Linked DNA regions of Homo sapiens: region 1 is linked to region 2. The links come from fine-mapping of genetic effects on gene expression. A gene starts in region 2. The other region holds a variant in brackets. All regions are shown on one strand. Distances are from middle to middle.

Evidence for each region. PIP is the estimated chance that this variant, and not a neighbour inherited with it, causes the effect.
Region 1: its variant is the best candidate, but not a certain one, in a credible set for the expression of PSMC4 in whole blood (TOPMed, PIP 0.59).

What each region holds. Positions count from the first base shown.
Region 1 is chr19:39,940,107-39,943,013 of GRCh38, forward strand. It overlaps the pseudogene PRR13P5. Among named protein-coding and RNA genes, the nearest start is that of FCGBP, 6.9 kb to the left of the region's middle. RefSeq lists enhancers at 1,563-1,642, 1,743-1,832. The variant C/T (reference allele first, on the strand shown) is at 1,244.
Region 2 is chr19:39,969,686-39,972,592 of GRCh38, forward strand. It overlaps PSMC4 (proteasome 26S subunit, ATPase 4), which reads left to right and starts at 1,480. Exons shown (of 11, transcript NM_006503.4): 1 at 1,480-1,553; 2 at 2,461-2,559; 3 at 2,684-2,870. The coding sequence starts at 1,518. It overlaps LOC124904720 (a long non-coding RNA gene), which reads right to left and starts at 1,286. Exons shown (of 3, transcript XR_007067260.1): 1 at 1,195-1,286; 2 at 669-751. RefSeq lists enhancers at 800-849, 1,350-1,739, 1,764-2,443.

The DNA.
Region 1 (2,907 bases), 30 kb before region 2:
TCCAGCCTGGAGGACAGAGCGAGACTGTCTCAAAAAAAAAAAAAAAAAGATTCTCAGCAGATAGTTATTTTCTTTCAGCACTTGAAGAGTATTGCTCCAGGCTTTCTTCTCCATGGTTTTTGATAAGAAATTTTTTGTCATTTGATCAGTGTTCCCTATAGACAATTTATAATTCCTCTCTAGCTGCTTCCAAGATAGTTTCATTGTTTGCCTTTGTTTTCATAAGTTAGTTATACTGTGTTTTGGCATGGAATCCGTCAGATTTATTCTGTTTAGCTTCTTGCATCTGTAGGTTTATGTCTTTTGCCAAATTTGGGAAGGTTTGGTCATTATTCTTCAAATATTTTTCAGCCCCACTTTCTTTTCTCCTTCTGTTAATCTGATAATACAAATGTTAGCTATTTTATAATTGTCCTGCAGGTTCTCTGAGCCCTTGTTAGTCATTTTCTGTTTCTCTTTTTTAAAGTTGATTGTCTCTCTGTTTTTTGGATTGGGTAATTTTTATTGTTCTATCTTCAAGTTCACTTCTTATTTCCTTTGTCATAGTTGCTCTGCTCTTGAGCCTTTCCAGTGAGTTTTTATTTTAGTTATTGTATTTTTCAGTTTTATCATTTTCATTTGATTCTTTAAGAACATACTTTCCATTTCTTTGGTGAGATTTTCTTTTCTTTCCCATCTTTGCAAGGAATTTCTACTTGCTTGGTGAAACATTTTTATGATGGCTACTTTAGATCTTTGTCAGATAATTCTAAAATCTTTCATCTCAGTGTTAGATTGTTGATTGGCTTTTCTCATTCAAGTTGTGATTTTTCTGGTTGTTCATATTATGTATGATTTTTAAATTATATCCTGGACATTTCTGGTATTATGAGAGGAGACCCTGGATCCTATTTAACTCTTCCATTTTAGCAGTCACTGTTTTTAGGTTAGCATGCAGGTCCTGGCCTACTTTTGTGTGCTATGATTCCAATGACAATTTAGTTTTCAGAGCCCTTGCATTATTATTCCGGTCTATTTCATTTGCCTGGTGCTGGTTGAGCTCATACCCAATTCCTGTTAGTACCACCAATGGAGGTTAAAAGCATTTTCTTGGGGCCTGCTTGGTGCTGCTACGTTAGGAGTAGGAGACACTGGCACAAAAGGGTGGAGAGTACTTCCCTGGGCTGCGTGGTGCCAGCAGGGCTCTTCCTTCATCTCTGCCATCCACTAGGGTGGGGAAAGCACCTACCTGGGTGCTTTCTGC[C/T]GCTGGATAGGGGGCTGGGGAGATGCTGGATCTAGACCACGTCCTGTCGTTGGGTGGGAAATTGAGAGATGCTGGGCCACTGAGATGTTTCTCGAGTTCTAAGGCCCTTGTCAGTTTTCCTTCTTTTTATCTTTCAGAGTCCTCTTAAGAATGTCTGTTATGTTATTCCAGGGTTTTTAGCAGAGAGGAGCCAGGAAAAATAAATCTATGTCATCTTGACAGAGATGTTACCATCATCCTGGCTTGTTGTAGTCTCCTAAGATAGAAATCAAGTGAGATTACCAGACACAGTATTAAAGAGAAAAAAAAAAAAAAGTTTGTTTCCGTTTGTGCAGAAGGGAGGTCAGCACCGTGAAAGGAAAAGGGTAGGCTGCTCCCCACAGGGAGCAAGTCGATCTGTCTTGTAGGGGTCCAGATGCCATGATGTGCCTGTCATCATGTGTTAACAAGGGATTTCTTGGCGCCTGCACAATGGTTCAACATGGTTTTTCATACATTGCATGTAATATTGGCATTTTAAATCTCTACCTCTGAGCATGATTTTTAGCATTGAAATAAGGAAATTATCACTGTAAGTTGAAACCTAAGCTGTTCCTGTGGCTTCCTGGGGAAGTCCCTAAGCCCCTAAAGCAGGAACTTGTGGTTAATAGCTTCTTGGGCCTCTGATGCTGACTGGCTGGAGGTTAGGTATAGAACAGGAATTAAAAGAAATAAAGAATGTGTAAGCAAAACTTAGTTGTATGTAAGAAAACCCAATTCCCCCTGAGGAAGAGAAAGAGCTGGAGTCCTTTAAAATTAACTGCCTGTTTTTCTATGGCTAGTGAGCCTTATCTCTCCCTTTCCCAGGCATTGTGAAGACTCTGTTTCTCTAGCTGTGCAGCTGTAAGATCACTAGACAGATAATCTCAAGTCGTAAAACATGCTGTTCCTTGAAAAAAAAATGATATAATGCATGTCTCAATTGAATGACTGTCTTTGTTTCTCACTTCTGTGATATGCTTCCCCCTGCACAGATCTCCCCCAGCCCCACGAAATGCTTAAAAGGTAGCTTGACTCTTTGTTCAGGGCTCAGTCCTTTGGATGTTAATCTGACTGGGTCGGTGCACCTGAATAATTAAATAATTCCTCCTCAACCCCACGGTCTCTCTGATTCCTTAATTATCCTGCTGCAGACAAGCTACAGCTTGAGTAAGGGGCTTTTGTTCTTTTTCACTAAACCACCTCAAAATAGGAAGCCAGCCAGCTGTCTCACTCCCAGCCAAGAGATTTCATTCTCCTTATTCTTTTTTTTTTTTTTTTTTTTTTTAGACCAGGAGAAATAACTTTATTTGAATAGGACCCGAGACAGCATATTGGGCTAAGGAGGAGAGGTAAGGTTCCAAAACCGCAGTCAAAGCTCATCAACCAAATGGACTCTACTTCCCAGCAACCTTGCAGTTAGTGCAACCAACAAAAGGCCTGCTGGGGAATGTATTTGCCACTAAATCCCCCAAGTATGCCAACATTACAAAAAAGATAGAGGTTTTTCATCATAATTGAATTTCCACAAACCTCCCCAATCACAAGTATTATAAGTGGAAGTAAAAAATCACATTTTACAGATCTCAAACTTGTCTTCAACATTTAGTTCATCATCTTCAAAAAATAGCTCCCCTGCCTAATTC
Region 2 (2,907 bases):
TCCAGCCTGGGCAACAGAGCAAGAATCTCTTTCAAAAGATATATTTTTAAAGGCTACATGGGGTGGGTCATGCCTGTAATCCCAGTGCTTTCAGAGGCTGAGGAGAGAGGATAGCTTGAGGCCAGCAGTTGGAGACTCTAGTGAGCTATGATCGTGCCACTGCACTCCAGCCTGGGCGACAGAGACTCTAGCTCTTAAAAAAAAAAGAAAAAAACAGATGAATGATAACCTTTAGAAGGGATCGGGAGGCCGGATGTGGTGGCTCACGCCTATAATCCCAGCACTTTGGGAGGCCAAGGCAGGCAGATCACTTGAGGTCAGGAGTTTGTGACCGGCCTGGCCAACATGGTGAAACCCTGTCTCTACTAAAAATACAAATATTAGCCTGGGCAACAGAGTGAGACTCCGTCTCGGGGCGGGGAGTGGAGGGGGGAGAAGAAGGGATGGGGGAAAGGGGAGCACATGAGGCTTCTACTGTTTGGTTTTGCGATCTGGATTCAGGTTGTATGGGCATGTTCACTTTGTGTAATTTTGTCGAGCTGTAATGATTTGTGCTCTTCTCTTTATTTAACTTCAATAAAAGGTTTACTTAACAAAAATTGTAGCTGGTGTGAAGGGTAGCAGTGTTTCCCTGGGGCCAAGAGTACAGGCTTTGGGGACAGACAGACCTGGGTCCCAATCTATGCTTTGTCCCTTCGGCACATTGTTGACTGTGGCTGGTGGCTTCGTGGCTCTGAGCTTGTCTCCTTCTCTATAAATGAGGAAACATAATACTTGCGACGATGATGCCTGTAAAGCTTAAGCGCAGGACCTGGCATAGATCTGTAAGGCGGAAACCTGGGATACAGAACTAAGGTCTATGGATCTCCTGTGCTACCCAACTTCTGGGCACTCGCTGCCTCCTTTTCCCCAGCCCAGACGCGTGGGTTCTACTCGATTGGTTGCTCACTGCGGGCTCGGGGCTCCTCAATCCCGGGGTAAAGCCCAGTATGAAATGTCACCTTCAGGGGCAGCTCGGATCTTCCCACGCCCGCGCGGCGCACAATCTTTGGATCAGCGCCACGTGGAGACCTTACCCGCCCGTACGATCAATCCCTTCTGTGGAACCCAGCTCAAGGACCCTCCAGCCCAGACACTAGAAAGCGAAGAGCAGTTGGCCGCCAGACTGTCCGTGCCAGAGCTCTGCGAACTTACTCCGTTGAAAGAGCAACGGGGCTGCGCCACCTCCCGGAGAGAACCCCCAGCCCTCCACGGCAGGGCGAGATGGCGCCACCGCGTGATACTGCGCACGCCCACAGCTCCCGTCCCGCCCTCGCGCCTGCGGGTACGGACAGCGCATGAGCTTATGTTGAGGGCGGAGCCCAGACCAGCCCTTCGTCCTATCCTGCCCTTCCAGCACCTCTCAGCCGTAACTTAAACTACACTTCCCAGAAGCCTCCTCAGCCAGGGACTTCCGTTGTCGTCAGCGGAAGCGGTGACAGATCATCCCAGGCCACACAGAGGCCGGCTTGGTCACTATGGAGGAGATAGGCATCTTGGTGGAGAAGGCTCAGGTACAGTGGGGACTTGGGCTTTTTAGTCCGGGCCGGGCTCGCGGGGAGAGGGTGAAGCCAGACCTGAGTGGGGGGAGGAATGGCTTCCAGGACCCCGGCCCAGGTTGGGGTTATTTTAGAGGCCTCGGTGGAGAGCTTTGTGCCATTCGAAGGCCTGTCTGGGTGGCCGAGTGATGGTAGGAGGTAAGGCTCAGAAAGCGGGGCTGGGGGAGTGAGTGACGTTAGTGGGTCTTTGAGACGGATTGATTTCGAACCCTGGCCGGTAGTGCTTAGTGAGGTCGGTGGCCCGGCGTTGGGATTGGGTCAGGCGGTGAGTGATATATGGGATCCCGCCGTGCGGCCGAGTGATCCCCGGGTCTGGGCTGCGGGGCTGACTGATGTTCAGGGCTTTGCTGATGGGGGTAATGGGGCGGGTAGTTAAGTATTATCTGTGGCTTGCCTGAGTGATATTTAGGTCTAAGGTGAGTTAGGAGACTGTGACATAAGGGATCTTTGAGGGGAAACTGGGGAATGTTGGGACTCGTTGAAGGCGCAGTCACTTTAACAGCCTATCTAGGAGAGCCATGTGACATTAGGAACCTCTTGAAGGGGATTGGGTGGCATTTGGGTCTGATAAGGAGTTGATGTGACGTTTAGATCCTAGTTGGGGGTTGTGTGACACTGGGGACATGTTATGAGTGGTATATGATAACATAAGATCTGTTTGAGGGGCAAGTTGACATAAAGAGCTTGTTTAGGTGGCCAAAAGGTTTCCAGGATCTATTTAGAGGGTCTTAAGATATCAGGGGTCTGTTAGGGGCTAAGTGACATCAGGGTGAAGTGGGGAGGGGAACAAACATTAGTGAAGTTGGGAAGCTTTCATGAGAGGACTGTCTTCTTCCAATGTGAGTTATCCCCTTTCGTCTAGGATGAGATCCCAGCACTGTCCGTGTCCCGGCCCCAGACCGGCCTGTCCTTCCTGGGCCCTGAGCCTGAGGACCTGGAGGACCTGTACAGCCGCTACAAGGTACATTCGACCCCCAACCCAGACCTTGCACAGGACCTGACATCTCATACTCTTCCCCACTTTCCACCACTCTCTGGATCAGCAAGTCTGGAGCCATCCCCTTCTGTCCCCTCTCTGCTCGCAGAAGCTGCAGCAAGAGCTGGAGTTCCTGGAGGTGCAGGAGGAATACATCAAAGATGAGCAAAAGAACCTGAAAAAGGAATTTCTCCATGCCCAGGAGGAGGTGAAGCGAATCCAAAGCATCCCGCTGGTCATCGGACAATTTCTGGAGGCTGTGGATCAGAATACAGCCATCGTGGGCTCTACCACAGGTGTGCTAAGGACACCTCATTCATTCATCTGTCCACT